Regions from separate parts of the Homo sapiens genome. Here region 1 is linked to region 2. The links come from fine-mapping of genetic effects on gene expression. A gene starts in region 2. The other region holds a variant in brackets. All regions are shown on one strand. Distances are between the middles of the regions. Region 1 holds the start of MIR4645 (microRNA 4645). Region 2 holds the start of SERPINB9 (serpin family B member 9).

The links. PIP is the estimated chance that this variant, and not a neighbour inherited with it, causes the effect.
Region 1: its variant is fine-mapped to the expression of SERPINB9 in whole blood (TOPMed, PIP 0.91).

The regions. Positions count from the first base shown.
Region 1 is chr6:2,851,799-2,859,927 of GRCh38, reverse strand. It overlaps MIR4645 (microRNA 4645), which reads left to right and starts at 5,821; the gene lies at 5,821-5,897. It also overlaps the pseudogene SERPINB9P1. RefSeq lists enhancers at 770-1,349, 4,535-4,664, 4,725-4,784, 5,361-6,101, 7,397-7,586. The variant T/C (reference allele first, on the strand shown) is at 3,372.
Region 2 is chr6:2,900,097-2,908,225 of GRCh38, reverse strand. SERPINB9 (serpin family B member 9) reads left to right here and starts at 4,917. Exons shown (of 7, transcript NM_004155.6): 1 at 4,917-5,025; 2 at 7,605-7,782. The coding sequence starts at 7,615. SERPINB9-AS1 (SERPINB9 antisense RNA 1) reads right to left here. Exons shown (of 5, transcript NR_110841.1): 5 at 7,550-7,743. RefSeq lists enhancers at 1-463, 4,952-5,453 and silencers at 4,722-4,771, 4,872-4,951, 5,192-5,241.

The sequences.
Region 1 (8,129 bases), 48 kb after region 2:
AGCCCCAGGCAAGCCGCTTTCTACTCTCTGCTTTCATGAGTTCTAGTTTAGATTCCAGATATCAATGAAATCATTCAGTATTTGTCTTTCTGTGCCTGGGCCTGGTTTATTTCACTTAGCATAATGTTTTCTAAGTTCATCCATGTCGAAAATGACAATTTTTTTTTAAGATTGGATAATATTCCACCAGATATATGTATACCACACTTTCTGTAGCCATTCATTCATGGACAGACACTTGGCTTGTTTTCATATCTTGGCCATTGTGAATAGTGCTCCAATGAACATGGGAGTGTAGATACCACTTCAAGGTAAGGATTTCATTTCCTTTGGAGATATACCCAGTAGTGAAATTGCTGGATCATACGGTAATTCTATTTTTAATTTTTTGCGGGACTTCCATACTGTTTCCCTGAATGCTTGTACTAATTTAAATTCCCAGCAACAGTGTGCAGGTGTTCCCTTCCTCCACATCTGGACCAGCCCTTGTTATCTTACTTGTTTTTTTTTAAATTTATTTATCATGTTATTTGATTTTTAGAACAACTCTAAGCCATGGACAAAGCGGAAGCCATTACCTTCCTTTCACAAATGAGGAATGGAGGACAAAGGTTTAGAAACCTTTGTCCACTAGACACTTGACACTAGACACTTGTCTAAGATCACACAGATAGGAGACTTAAATTTAGATGTTTGATGACGCAGAGATACAGACAACAGGAAGAGGATGGAGGTTAAACCCAAAAGCTCAAGCAAAGGGCTGCTGAGCTGAGCATCTGTGAGGCTGTACTACACTGAAGGGCCTGCATGAGCGACGGTGTGGAGGGAGAAGACCCATAAGACAGTTACCAGAGGGACCAGCCCAGACAGAGAAGGGGCAGGGGACAGAGCCATTCAGCTGGAGCCATACTGAAGAGGAGTTGGAACTTTTTCCAGGGCCATCATTTATGATCAGTGGAGTCACATGATCTCCTTGGAGGCTGGGACACTGCTTAATCCTTTCTCATCTCCCCAGAACCTAACCTGATATTTGGCACTGTAATAGAAAGTGCACAACAAATGTTTATTGTCCAAACCAGCGGGGATCTCTGGCTCCGAGGATGATCTGGCAGCAGAAGGAGGCTGGTTTGGGTGTGGGGAAGAGGTAGGGTGGGTCAAACAGAGGTGGGGCCATGAGAAAGGGGCATTCACTCAGAGAACCACTGTCAGCTGGAGAAAAACAAAATGAAACCAAACTATTTTTCCCAGGCCTTGAGGCAGAACTTTCTTTTTCTAGAAGCCAGATGAAAGAAAGAAGAGACCAGGCATGGTGGCTTATGCCTGTAATCCCAGCACTTTGGGAGGCTGGGGTGGGCAGATCACAAGGTCAAGAGATCAAGACCAGCCTGACCAATATGGTGAAACCCCATCTCTACTAACATTACAAAAATTAGCCAGGCATGGTTGCGTGTGCCTGTAATCCCAGCTACTCGGGAGGCTGAGGCAGGAGAATTGCTTGAACCCGGGAGGCAGAGGTCGCAGTGAGCCCAGATCCCGCCACTGCACTCCAGGCTGGGAAACAAAGCAAGCCTCTGGCTCAAAAAAAAAAAAAAAAAAAGTACAGGAAGCAGAGAGGGGGTGAGAGGAAGGGAGAAACAGGGTGGAAGGGGGAGGGGGAGGGAGAGGGGGAGACAGGAAGAGGAGCAAAGATAGCAATTCTTAAGGCCTGTTATCTATTAGTTACCCTTGCCTTGGCGGCAGACACAGCTGAGTCCTAACGCAGACTTTTCCATATCCCCTCTCCCGCCTCAACAGTGATCTCTCCTCCCACTTCGAGAGTTAATTCAGTGCTGCTTTAGCTTTACGCCCCCATGAAAACAGGAAAACGGTTTGCAGCTTTATCATAACCTTGCTTATGTCTGTTGTTGTATGTCTCAAATACCCTGTCCTCAGGAAGGCCCACCAACGCTGGCCGGCCTCCAAGCACCCGGGCCTCTGCTCATGTACAGCTCCTGAACTGCCCTGCCTCTGAGTTACTGTAAGTCCCCGCCCACTCGAGAGCACACGACCAGTCTCACCCCCAATTTTAAAATGGCAGCCCCCTTGCCTTTATTTATAGACAGGTGCTTTCCAATCCTTAAGTGATTTTTTAGTGAACAGGTCATAAAGTTTCCTGTCATGGCATGAGGTGGAGGGGACAGCCCTCAGAGAGGGGTGTGGGGACCGTGGCTGGCGGTCACATCACACCGGCCTCTCCCGCCTGCAGCCTTGCCCTTTGCAGATGACTCAGGTGGGGAAAGCTCAGAAGGAAAGCCACCAAGTCCGGATGCCCCACCCCACACGCAGAATCTAGCTTCTCAGGGAAAGCAAGAAGGGGATGCTTCAGGGGACTTTGCTGAGGCCAACCTTTGGCATCTTTTTTGAAAAGACATTTGTGTCCGTTTGCTCATTTTTTTCATGATCAAGGAGGGTCCTCCCAGGCTGCCCTTGGCGGACCCCTTTCCTTGTACCCCGTCCACCTTGTCCTCTGGCTTCCAGCGGGTCCACTCCTCTTTCCTGCTTCCTAAACCTCGCCCAGAGCCTGCGACCCTCTCACCCTGGCCCAAACTCCCAGACACAGATTTGCAGCAGCGCAGCCAATGATGTTTTCTTTATGTGACTTCCTGGGACACTGCTTAGTGCCTCCTCCCATGTCTTCCTTGGGCTGCAGCATCTCTCAGGGCTCACAGAGGCCCCTCTAACTCCAAGGGGACTTCTTGGTCTGTTTCACAGGCCAGGAGACGGTGTTCGGATACATCCCCGCTGTATGTTTCATCCATGGCAGTCTGGCCTTCCCATGAAGAGCCTCTGTGTGAGCAAATTGAAAATAGGGCTTCTTGCCCCAACCTTCCATGGAAATGGCTATGGTTTCAGTCTCCATAAAGGTTACTTGCTCTTTTTCTGAAAATCCAAAAGGACAGTGTTAACTCTTTGTACAAATTGCACTGGCCATTTGGTCTTAGCGCAAACTTTTTGGACCATGTTTCATTTTCGTTTTGAGGTGAAAGAAAATATCAAAGCCTCCTAGCATTTTGAAACTCCTCAAATATCAAGTGCAAAACTGCTGATGGGATCAAAGATGCCGGCTAAATTCTTGGCCAATAAGATAAGACTCTTTCCTGTCAACTGACAAGCAATACATGAATATGTGCAGGGTAGCTGATAATCTATGAAATTATCGGCTGGGTACAGTGGCTCACGCCTGTAATCTCAGCACTTTGGGAGGCCAAGGTGGGTGGATCACCTTAGGTCAGGAGTTCGAGACCAGCCTGGCCAACATGCTGAAACCCTGTCTCTACTAGAAATACAAAAATTAGCCAGGCATGGTGGCAGGCACCTGTAGTCCCAGATAC[T/C]TGGGGAGGCTGAGGCAGGAGAATGGCTTGAACTCGGGAGGTGGAGCTTGCAGTGAGCCAAGATCGTGCCACTGCACTCCAGCCTGGGCAACAGGGTGAGACTCCATCTAAAAAAAAAAGAAAAAAAAGAAATTACCACCAATTACTAACTAGTAACTAATAAGTTACTTGAAATGAACTTGATCCTTGTCTTAAACCAGTGGTGGGGTACAGGAAACTTGAAGATTCTTGAGCTGCAGCCCTGTTTTGATTTGTAGTTTTTGTTGCAATATACACCTCTCTACTAGGCACAGGTGACACATGGGAGCTTGTGTCGACATGTGGGAGCCCTGTACAGGGTCCAGACCTTGAGGTGCCAGGCAGCAGAGCCTGTGGCTGGGAATGGGGGTGCGTGGGGCTTATCTTGGGCCTCACATAGGGCCTCAAAGTTAAAATGTTGAAATTATTTCCTAGTAATCTTACTATACTTAGAGTCACAGAGACAGATACACTGAAAAGACGGACAGAAATTACTTTAATGATAAAAGTTAAGCTCATGTTCCATGAAAGAAATGCCATAAGAATGTTTTCTAAATCCTATGCTTAACTTCGGAATAGCGCAATTAGATTGCATTGCATTTTTGAAAGATCACTTGTTAAATACAAAATTTTAAAACATACCACAATATTTGGCACTTCATTTTCTTTATTAAACAAGGAGACTCAGAAAATCATAGTGGCCTGGGCCCATGTGAACCTCTGTGAAAGCCTCCCACAGGGAGAGAGGACTGGGATGCCATGGTCCTAGGTGGGAATGGGGGGAGCAGTGTAGGCCTCGGTGCGGACCCAATGCTGGGGCCCTAAGGCTCTCTCCTCTTTTCTTCCAGGTGGAAAATGAGCTTATATATGAAGAAGTCAGCGAGTGGACAAAGCCAGGCGCAATGGATAGCAAAGATGTGGAAGTCTCCTCGATTCAAGTTACAAGAAAACCGCAGCATGGAGTCTGCTCTCAGCTGTTGGGGAATTACCGATGCCTTTGACTAAGTCAAGACTGACTTTTCCAGAATATCACCCAAGAGATAGAGCCGTCCCTGTCCAAGTTTGTGCGCTAGCCCTTCATGGAGGTCAGAGAGGAAGAAACAAAGGCAGCTGTGGCCTCGGCGGTCACAGTGTCAGAACGCACAAGCCCCATAAAGAGGTTTCACGCAGGCCACCCATCCCTTTTCATTCTCCAGCAGAACAGGACAGAGAGCGTTCTGTTCTGCGGAAGGTCTTCCACTCTACAAGGCAATCCCTCCAGCTGCTTTGCTGTATTGTGCTGTCTCCTGTCACACTATGAATGCAGTGACCTCAGCCAGCAACAGGGAGAACCCCCCTGCCTCCCGAACAAAGGACCTCACGTGAAATCCTGAGCTCAGAGCTTACAGATATGTGTGCGCTTTCACTTTACATCGGCCGTGACTTCCAAACAACTTCAGGAAACTTTAGGATCTCTGAGGTATACTGGAGATGACAGCAGCGTAGAATGTTCATTTGGATTTAGAACAGAAATGCTTATTTTATATTTGGCTGCTCCCAAACTGTCCCCAGACTTCCTCTCCAGTGGTTACCCTCCACTGCCCTGGATGTCCCACGTTTACACTCCACACTCACACCTCCACCTTAACAAAGTCCTCCACTGGGTCAAACCATACATCGCTTCGTCTCTGTAGTGATGACTTCCTGTCCTCTGCTCTGTGGATAAAGACCCCAGATAAAGATGCCTGTGTTGCTCAACTCTTGTAAATACTCTTGAGACATTTTGAAAGCAGAAGGAAAGGAGACAGACGGGGAAAATAAAAGGGATGGTCTGCTTGTGCGGAAACGTTTTGAGAATGCCCTTCCCTAAGAGAGAACAGTAAAAGTGAGCAATACTTCCTGAGCTGTGGGTTCATATGGCTGGACTGTGCTGTTTCTCACGGGAGAAGTTCTCGTCTCCCCTGCGTGTACATCCCTGTTTGCCAGCCTGGCCTTCGGTGTGGTGATATCATGGTGCACTCCCAGGAGGGAAGTGCTTGGTCAAGACTTCTGCTTGGGTTCGACTATCAGTTCTGGTTTCCTTTAAGGCACAGGATCTTCCCTTTAAGGCACAAACACCCCCTTGACACAAAGTAAGGGACAAGGGAACTTTAAACCATTTGGAAACCCAAGCACAATAGGCTGTAGGTTGTAAAAAGAAATTACAAAGGTAATTTTATCCAGAAGAGGGAGCAGTTTAACTTCTGCAGGGTAAGATTCAGATTCACTTTTGTAACTGAACAGGGAATTTTCTAAATATTTTGAAAATGCCGAAACATTTCCTGTTGGCATTTCACAGAAACGTTCAAAGTTCCCTAATGATAGTTTCCGCTGTGCTCACTCCGGAGGCTGCTAAGCAACCTCAGTAATTAGCTCGATTGAGGAAACGAAACTGTGGGGGACTCAGTTTCCATGATAGGGAAACCAGGCAAGAAATATTGTCTCCTCAAGTTGCGACGAGACAGTAGTTCTTGCCTGGTTTCTCTATCATGGAGTCTTGGTTGGACTCTGCTATGCGTCTCTTGATGAAATGTGATACTAGCAATTGAACAATTAAGAAAATGGATGGCGGGGGGTGGAGCGGTTTGTCACTACTGGAGTTGCAGAGGCTCAGTGGGGGAACCTGAGAAACACTGCGTCCCCCAGGTCATCACCGCGTCAGCACTGATGAGTCATGTTGATGGCATGGACCCTGAATATGACACAATGAGATGTCACTTTACCTCTGTGGCCTTTCCCAGAAAAAACCATAACCCCAGTCTAACCATGAGAAAAATATAAGACAATGGTGCAGGCAGGGCATTTCAGGAGAGGGTCAGGTAAAGGGGAGGGGGTCCCAGGAGAGGGTCAGGGGAGGGGACTTCAGGAGAGGGACAGGGAGAGGGGAGGGGGCTCCAGGAGAGGGTCAGGGAAAGGGGAGGGGGTCCCAGGAGAGGGTCAGGGAAAGGGGAGGGGGGTCCCAGGTGAGGGTCAGGGGAGGGGACTTCAGGAGAGGGACAGGGAGAGGGGAGGGGGCTCCAGGAGAGGGTCAGGGAAAGGGGAGGGGACTTCAGGTGAGGGTCAGGGAAAGGCGAGGGGGTCCCAGGACAGGGTCAGGGGAGGGGACTTCAGGAGAGGGACAGGGAGGGGGGAGGGGGGCTCCAGGAGAGGGTCAGGGATAGGGGAGGGGGGTCCCAGGAGAGGATCAGGGGAAGGGGTGGGGCTTCAGGAGAGGGTCTGAGAACACACAGGCAGGCAACACCTTAAAATCCCATCTCAGTCAGCAATGACTCCTCATAGGGCCACCACGAGCTTAAATGTCACTTAAATGTCCCTATTTGCCAGCCTGGACTTCGGTGTGGTGATATCATGGTGCATTCCCAGGAGGGAAGTGCTTGGTCAAGACTTCTGCTTGGGTTCGACTGTCGGTTCTGGTTTCACATGCACTGTGTGAACACGCTTCATACAGAGGGTCAGCACCGCACTGTGTGAACATGCTTCATGCAGAGAGCCTGTACTGCACCAGGTGAACACACTTCATACAGAGAGTCAGCACCGCACCGTGTGAACATGCTTCATACAGAGAGTCAGCACCGCACTGTGTGAACACGCTTCATACAGAGAGTCAGCACCGCACCGTGTGAACACACTTCATACAGAGAGTCAGTACTGCACCGTGTGAACATGCTTCATACAGAAGATCAGCACCTCACTGTGTGAACACACTTCATACAGAAGGTCAGCAATGCACCGTGTGAACACACTTCATACAGAGAGTCAGCACTGCACTGTGTGAACATGCTTCATACAGAAGATCAGCACCTCACTGCGTGAACATGTGTTATACAGAGAGTCAGCACCGCACCGCGTGAACATCCTTCATACAGGTCAGCACTGCACCATGTGAACACACTTCAAACAGAGAGTCAGTACTGCACCATGTGAACATGCTTCATACAGAAGATCAGCACCTCACTCTGTGAACATGTGTCATACAGAAGGTCAGCACTGCACTGTGTGAACACGCTTCATACAGAAGGTCAGCACCGCATTGTGTGAACATGTGTCATACAGAGAGTCAGCACCGCACCGTGTGAACACGCTTCATACAGAGGGTCAGCACCGCATTGTGTGAACATGCTTCATACATGAGGTCAGCACCTCATTGTGTGAACACACTTCATACAGAGTCAGCACTGCACTACGTGAACATGCTTCATACAGAGGGTCAGCACCTCACTGTGTGAACATGTGTCATACAGAGAGTCAGCACTGCACCGTGTGAACATGCTTCATACAGAGGGTCGGGTCAGCACCGCACTGTGTGAACATGCTTCATGCAGAGAGTCTGTCCTGCACCAGGTGAACACGCTTCATACAGAGAGTCAGCACCGCACCGTGTGAACACGCTTCATACAGAGGGTCAGCACCGCACTGTGTGAACACACTTCACACAGAGGGTCTGTACCACATTCCGTCAACATGTGTCAGCACCATACCATGTGAACACGCTTGGTACAGTGATATACATGCATGTGGCAGAGCTGTGAAATTATGACCTGCTGCAGACAGACTTTGTACACTGTGCTATCAGCCAACTGGGCAAATGTGGACAAGAGTCCCTGCATGTCTCTATTCACCAGGTGTCTGTCAAATGAAATGGGCTGAACTGGATAATGGCAGGTCTGACCCATGATTACTGCCTGTAAGAGCTGAGTTATCCCAGAGTGTAGGCGTGGGATA
Region 2 (8,129 bases):
GGTTTGCATACAGGCCTTTTCGATTTGACCTCAACATACGTTTCAAGGCTCATCTCCTGCTGCTGTGTTCTTCTTATCCCCCTCCCGACATACGTACTCGAGCACACACACACACACACACACAACCTCGACACACGTACTCGAGCGCACACACACACACAACCTCGACACACGTACTCGAGCACACACACACACAACCTTGACACACGTACTCGAGCACACACACACACCTCGACACACGTACTCGAGCACACACACACAACCTCGACACGTACTTGAGCACACACACACCTCGACACACGTACTCGAGCACACACACACAACCTCGACACACGTACTCGAGCACACACACACAACCTCGACACGTACTCGAGCACACACACACACAACCTCGACACACGTACTCGAGCACACACCTCGACACACGTACTCGAGCACACACACAACCTCGACACACGTACTCGAGCACACACACACAACCTCGACACACGTACTCGAGCACACACACACAACCTCGACACACGTACTCGAGCACACACACAACCTCGACACACGTACTCAAGCGCACACACACAACCTCGACACACGTACTCGAGCACACACACACACAACCTCAACACACGTACTCGAGCACACACAACATCGACACACGTACTCGAGCACACACACAACCTCGACACACGTACTCGAGCACACACACACAACCTGGACACACATACTCGAGCACACACACACACACACACAACCTCGACACACATACTCGAGCGCACACACACACACAACCTGGACACACATACTTGAGCGCGCGCACACACACACACAACTTTGACACACATACTCGAGCACACACACACACACAACCTGGACACACATACTCGAGCACACACACACAACCTCGACACACGTACTCGAGCACACACACAACCTTGACACACGTACTCGAGCACACACAACCTTGACACACGTACTCGAGCACACACACACACAACCTCGACACACGTACTCGAGCACACACACACACACACACACACAACCTCGACACACATACTCGAGCGCGCACACACACACACACACAACCTCCAGACCCTTCCAAGTCCATCTTCAGGGACCTTCCTTGGTCCCTGTTCTCTCAAGCCACCTGGATGATGCAGATCTGAAATGCCGTTTCCCTGTTTGCCCACTTGCAGATCTCTATTTCTTGATCATCTAATCCCAGTATGAAGCCTTTCAATCATTCAACAAATACGCTTCAGCAAATACAGTTGTCTCTTGGTATCTGATTGATTCCAGGATCCTAGCGAACATTGAGCTCTGCGGATCCTCAAGTCCCTAATATAACATGGCGTAGTGTTTGCATATAACCTATGCAAATGTAACCTGTGTAACATCCTCCCATACGCTTGAAATCATCTCTAGATTATGTATAATACCTAATACAATGTAAATGCTGTACAAATAGCCGTTATACTGTATTGTTTTAAATTTTGTATTATTTTTTGATTTTTTAAAAAATTTTTCCATCTGCAGTTGGTTGAATCTGTGGATGTGGAACCTGAGGTACCGGTGGCCAAATGTACAGTGTGCTAATATAAAAATTAGTAAAGGAGGGTTAGGCTGTCCTGAGGCTCGCAGTCCGGTGTGGGAGACAGAAGATTTAGTGGAAAGTCCCTGTGGAGCTTAAGTGTTGGGCTGGGCCATTCTAGGGGTGTTCAGGGCACCTTGGAAGTACCTCAGTGTGCTCGCCGTCTCTCCCTCAGACTGCTGCCCTCTTGGGCCAGATATTGTGTCTTCAACTTGGTACCAAGTTCCCAGCAAGTGCCAAGCCAAGCCCATGGCAGGAAGCGAATTATTTTTTGTTAACTGAATGCATGAGTCTTAGAATGGAACCTGACTGTGTCACAAGCATGATAGGAACATGTTGGGGGCAGGGAAATGTTTTCAAAGTTGTGGAAACCTTTGCAGAATGAATAGGGCCACGCTCCATATTTTGCTCTTTGCAGGACTTTAAGGAAGTGTGTCAAATGCCCACAGGTAGAGCTGGAAAATGTGGCCTTTGCTAAAGATGCAGAAGAGTCTAGAGACGCACAACGGCTGGGTCATTGGTGGTGAGGGACTTTATTTGCAGTGAACTTGGAGCTAGGAAGGAAGTTACTGCTGGGTGGGTCCTCAGTGACGGAGGTCTGCTTACACGTTTGCCAGGTTTTCAGGCCAGCAACATGATTCTGTCATTTCTCTTGGGCTTGTCTGATCATGAAGTAGTGATTTTTGAAAAATCCTTGGACCTGGTGTGAGGATCAAAGACTCCCTTCCTCCGGACAGTGTTGGAAAATCCTGGAAAAATGCTTCCTCTGGGGCCCTGTGTATTTTCTATCTGGGAAAACCATGATGAGCAATCAGATAAAGAAATATTTTTGTGATATGTTGTGACTTTCTTAAAGTAATAAAGTAGAAGAGATTTTAAATGAAAAATATAGGTAATTGCAAAATCTCTTGATTCTTAGCTATTTCTGAACAGATTTCATGCCCCACCCCCCCATACAATTTTTAGTGGGGGAAAGAGGAGAAAGGAAAGGAAAAGCTAAAATAACCTTGTTTTCATAGTTCTGTGTTTTTATCCTTTCCTAAACCCATTTTCCATCGCTGGTCACATGATTTGGATTGAAAGGACGTTTCCTCTAGGCCTCGGAGCACAGAGGCAGCTAACATGTTTGCACTATGCCATCATGGTCCACGTTTACTCAGACACTTTCTTGCAATGGCACTGACAACGATGCCCCCATTTGTTGCCTTAAAATTCATGGGTATGGCCAGGCACAGTGGTTCACGCCTGTAATCCCAGCACTTTGGGAGGCTGAGGCGGGAGGATCACCTGATGTCAGGAGTTCGTGACCAGCCTGGCCAACATGGTGAAACCCCATCTCTACTAAAAATACAAAAATTAGCTGGGTATGGTGATGCATGCCTATAGTCCCAGCTACTTGGGAGGCTGAGGCAGGAGAATCGCTGGAATTGGGAGGTGGAGGTTGCAGTGAGCCAAGATCACGCCATTGTTCTCCAGCCTAGGCGATAGAGCAAGACTCCACCTCAAAAAAATAAATAAGTGGATAAATAAATAACAGCTTTTTGTTTAATCAATTGTCTCTATCATTATAAAGTTTTCTATATCATTGATTTATTCTCTAATCTTTATTATTTCTTCTTTTCTACTGATTATGTGTTCAATGTATTTATACTTTTTCTAGTTTTTGAAGGTAGAAACTGAGGTCATTGATTTGAAGCCTTTCTCCTCTCCTAATATAGGCATTTCATGCTGCAAAATTTCCCCAAAGCTGACTTAATAACATCCTACAAATTTTGATGTTTTTATTTTCATTTTTTATTAATTTCAAAATACATTCTAATTTCCCTTTTGATTTTATAATATTTTTATAAGTATTATTCAGTTATAAAAAGAAATAAAGTACTAACAAATGCTACCTGGAACCATCAAGAATGACCCTTGAAAACATTATGCTAAGTGAAAGAAGGCAGTCAGGAAAGACCACATATTGTATGATTCAATTTGCATGAAATCTTCACAGTCGGTCAATCCGCAGGGCCAGAAAAGAAATCTGGAGGTCGGAGCCTCTCCCAGAAGCCAGGGGTTGTGGGAAGGAGGAAATGGAGAATAATTGCTAATGGGTATCACAGTTCCTTTTAGGGTGATGAAAACCTTCTGGAGTTAGATAGTGGTGAGAGTTGGACAGCTTTGTCAATATACCAAGAACTATTGAATTGTATGCTTTAAAAGGATGCATATTATGGTCCGTGAATTGTCTTTTAATAAAGGTTTTATTTTTAAAAACAAGCTAGGCACCTAGGGTGTCAAATTGAAGGAGGCTCTGATTCTCAGGGCCGCGCAAATGCAGGGTTGGCACCTATGCGTGTGGCCCTCCTGAAATTTTGTGCCTTAGGCACCTGCCTTGCTTCTCCCTAATTCAGGCCCTCAGGAGAAAGCTCTAATTCTGGTCAATTTGAAACAGGAGGGCACGGCTTCTGGGCGACGCTCCGTGCTCCAGAGAGAGCCATTTGTCTGTTCCCTTCCTCTGGACGTCACCGTGCCAACATGAAATGCTTCCAATTGAGTCCAGCCTGAGATGGAAGGGGGTGGGGGGATATCTGATGACATCACGAACTGCTGCATCAACTCCCCCGAGTCCCTGCCTCTGGACCCCCTGATAGAGGACACAAGGAGTGTCCTGAGCCCGTGTGACTCAGTGTCTCTTCCCATCACTTTGCGGGAAAATGGGGCTGCTTACACCACACCGCAGCCCAAACACCTGTGGCTAGAGAAGGGCTTGGGTACTAGGAGTGAGGACGCCTGGTTCTGGGCCCAGGACTAGTACTAGTTAGTGGTGGGACCTGGAACAAATGCTTTGGTTCTAAGTGAATCCCCCATATTCATGACAAGAGGCGTGGAACACAGACCCATGGGACCTTCCCACTGGAACACGGAGCTTGGCTGTCACCCGACCTTCGCTTCCTTAAGTACAAAAGCCCAGGGTTCCAGGCTCCGTCTCCTTTCCCGCAGACGCCTTGTTTCTTCGCGCGGAGGCCCTGGACGCCGCAGGCTCCCAACCTACTTCTCTGGGCTGTCAGGTTCTGAACCCGGTCCTGAAGAGGCCCTGGCGCCGGGGGTGGGTGAGGCCGAGCGCGCGCCTTGGGAACCTGGCCGGCCTCAGGCTGGCGGGAGCATTGGCGGACATCGCCCCGGGCGGGGCGGACTGGGGGGACCCTGACCTGACCCTGCTCCCAGCTCTGACCTCGGCCACCACGCGCGGCGCCCCCGCTGGTCCCGCCAGGCTCCGCCTAAACGCAGAAAGCGTGGGAGGCGCCCGACCCTGCGGTATAAAAGCGGTGCCTGCAGAGGCCCTAGCGGGAGTCCGCGGCGAGCGCAGCAGCAGGGCCGGGTCCTGCGCCTCGGGGGTCGGCGTCCAGGCTCGGAGCGCGGCACGGAGACGGCGGCAGCGCTGGACTAGGTGGCAGGTGAGGGCGTCCCCGCGCACGGCTGGGGTAGGGGACGGGAGTGGCGAGCTTCAGGTCCACCGGCTGCCACCGAGTGATGGGACCGGAGGACAGGAGAGGTCGCTCAGCCAAGAGCCCCGGGGAGGCGGTGCCTTCTCGGTGGGGTCAGCAACGGTCTCTGGGGGGTGCCTGGGAGCGGCAGCCGGTCTCCGCCTTGGCGGCCCACAGCCACCGCGGACGCCTCCCTCCCGGATGTCTCCTCGCTGCCCTTCCCTGGCCGAAGCCCTCCCCTGCAGCCTCCTCCCCACCTGCCGGCCCTGTGTTCTCACTGCTCTTCTCTGCTCTGGGATCCGCAGGATGACGTCTGTCCTGCTTCTTCACTGTCCTTTACAGTCACCAGTCTCGGCCGGGCGCAGTGGCTCACGCCTGTAATCCCAGCACTTTGGGAGGCCAAGGCGGTCGGATCCTTGGAGATCAGGAGTTCGAGACCAGTCTGGCAAACGTGGTGAAAACCGGTCTCTACTAAAAATACAGAAATTAGCCGGGCATGGTGGCCCACGCCTGTAATAATGTCAGCTATGTGCTGAGGCAGGAAAATCACTTCAACTCGGGAGGCAGAGGTTGCAGTGAGCTGGGATTGCGCCACTGCACTCCAGCCTGGCAGACAGAGTGAGACTTCGTCTCAAAACAAAAAAAAGAAAAACACAAAAAAACCACCACCAACAACAACAAAAAAATAAAGCCACCAGTCTCGGAGTTTCAAATCTGAGCACTCTTATCCATCTTAATTCTTTCAATAATTCAGCTAAACGAATGGGGTCCTGAGAATCTGCAGAGCCAGGCTCAGCGCTCGCCTGCAGAGCCTGCGGTCTGTGGGGACCACCAGCAAGATGAGGAATCACCTTCGGGAGGAAGGGTCGTGCTGGGGAGGGTCGCGCCGGCGGGGTCAAGAGAACCTCCTCCAGGGTGGGAATCAGAGCCTCCGGGCCGCGGTGTTTGAGGGTGAGTGGAATTAATGCCGTGATGGACATGGGGCCTTCTAAGGGGGACCAACAGTGTTTGTGAAGAGTTGACTTTGGGAGGGGTTCAGGATGGCCAGAGGTGGAGGCTGTGACCTCAGTGAGTCTGGATCAAGGGAGGGGGCAGGTGGGTAAGACACCGTTTTAACAAGGTGGCTTTGAGCGGCCACCTTTGAGGGGCCTAAGGGCCCCTGGGAGATTTAGGAGGAAGGACAAGAGGATTAAGACACCGCTTTCTGAGGTGCCGTGTGGCTGTGGCGTGGGGGTGGCTGGGGGAGTGGGTTGTGTTCATTGTCCAAGGCTCTCCAGCGCTTTGCGTGGCGTTTTGGGGAGCACAGATGAGGTGTCCCGACAGTGGGGAGTGGCTCTAGGGAGACCAGAGGCTCGGGAGGGGGCCTGGGCATTAGACCAGGCACAGAATCCGAAGTGGGAAGAAATGTGGGCGTAGAGGGCAGGCCTTGGGGATGGGTGTGGGGGAGGAGGGGGAGATGGAAAGGAGTCAGGGAGGTCTCCCAGGCTCACCTGGAGGAGTCAGGGTCTCATTTCCAAGTGCACTGGGAACTGCAGCCTGGGGGTGGGGGTTCATTTGGTTTCAGGCCTGTGGCCAAGAGACCCACCCCCTCACATTCACACTTTGGTCTCCAGTGGCTTCACAGGCACCACCTCCTTGTTCTCGCCTGTTTTACTCCTCACCTTGGGCTGTTTCTTGCCTTTCCATTCTGGCGTTCTGCAGGGATCAGATCCTTCCTCTCACGCACAATCTACACTCATGGCTTTTGCTGGGAGTAATGAGTAAAGCTCCCAAATAGATGTTTCTGAGTTAGGAAGCACATTAAAAACAAAACAAAACGAAGCAAAACCACACAATTGTCCAAGTCCCACTCTGTGTTCAAGGGTCACATGATGTGCAGAAGCTGGTGATGGGCAGGAGCTCTGAATGGAGTTACTGGGATGTCAGGCCGCGTGGGCCTGGGGCAGGCTGGCTGACTGGGAGCAGCCTGGCTCCACCCCGGCTGTCCAGGACGCACTCACTTGCCTCTATGGATGACAGCTCCTTGCCTCACAGCTGTCTGTCTCTGGGTCAGATTCAGCATCTCAGTGTCTTTTGTGTATCAGCTGAATGTCAGGGAGGCCACAGGCTGGTGCCCAGTTGAAAATCTCACAAGGACTCTTTGTAAATGCATGCAAGAATAAGAACAGCATTTTCCTCCTCCTCCCTGACCCCATTCTCCTCCTCAGATGGGACGATCTGGTCCTTACGGAAAGAATTGGAGTTCACTGCTTCCAGCTCTGTGTGTGTGTGTGTGTGTGTGTGTGAGAGAGCGAGCTCTGCAGGCGAGCCAGTTCTGTTGCTATTGCTGGTTTGAGCTGCTGCCATCACCACACTTAGCTAATTACCTTAACATTTGCACTTAATTTTTGGCCGGAGACTAACAGAAAATAAATTTTTCTCCAATTTAAAATACTTACGAACTTTAAGAAGAAAACAAAAAGTACGATTCCAAAATTGCCCTGTAGTAAGTAGGTCAGTAACATTCAGGGAGTGTGGAAACTGCATTTCTCTTTATTCTTCCCTTCCAGGCCCTGCATCATGGAAACTCTTTCTAATGCAAGTGGTACTTTTGCCATACGCCTTTTAAAGATACTGTGTCAAGATAACCCTTCGCACAACGTGTTCTGTTCTCCTGTGAGCATCTCCTCTGCCCTGGCCATGGTTCTCCTAGGGGCAAAGGGAAACACCGCAACCCAGATGGCCCAGGTAAGCTTGCCCGTCCGCCAGGAGCAGGGACTGGCCTGGGCTGCGTGTTCTGTCACCAGCTTCACACTCACACTCCAGAGCCACTGAGAAAGGAGGGCAGGACTGGGGCCCGAGTGTGCACTGGCCGTTTCAGGGAGGCGGGGTCCACTGGGGAAGAAGTGGGGCAGGGCAGGGAGGCAGGAACTCTGCTCCACCGAGATTTATTTGGGGGAAACTTTCCTCGGTTAATCCCTTGGAAAAGACCATCCAAGCTGTCTTGTCCTAGCGCAGAATCTTTCTTTAGAAAATGACACTGAAATTATTTGAAACATAAGTTGCAAAGAACTACCTCTTTTTTGGAGCAAGAG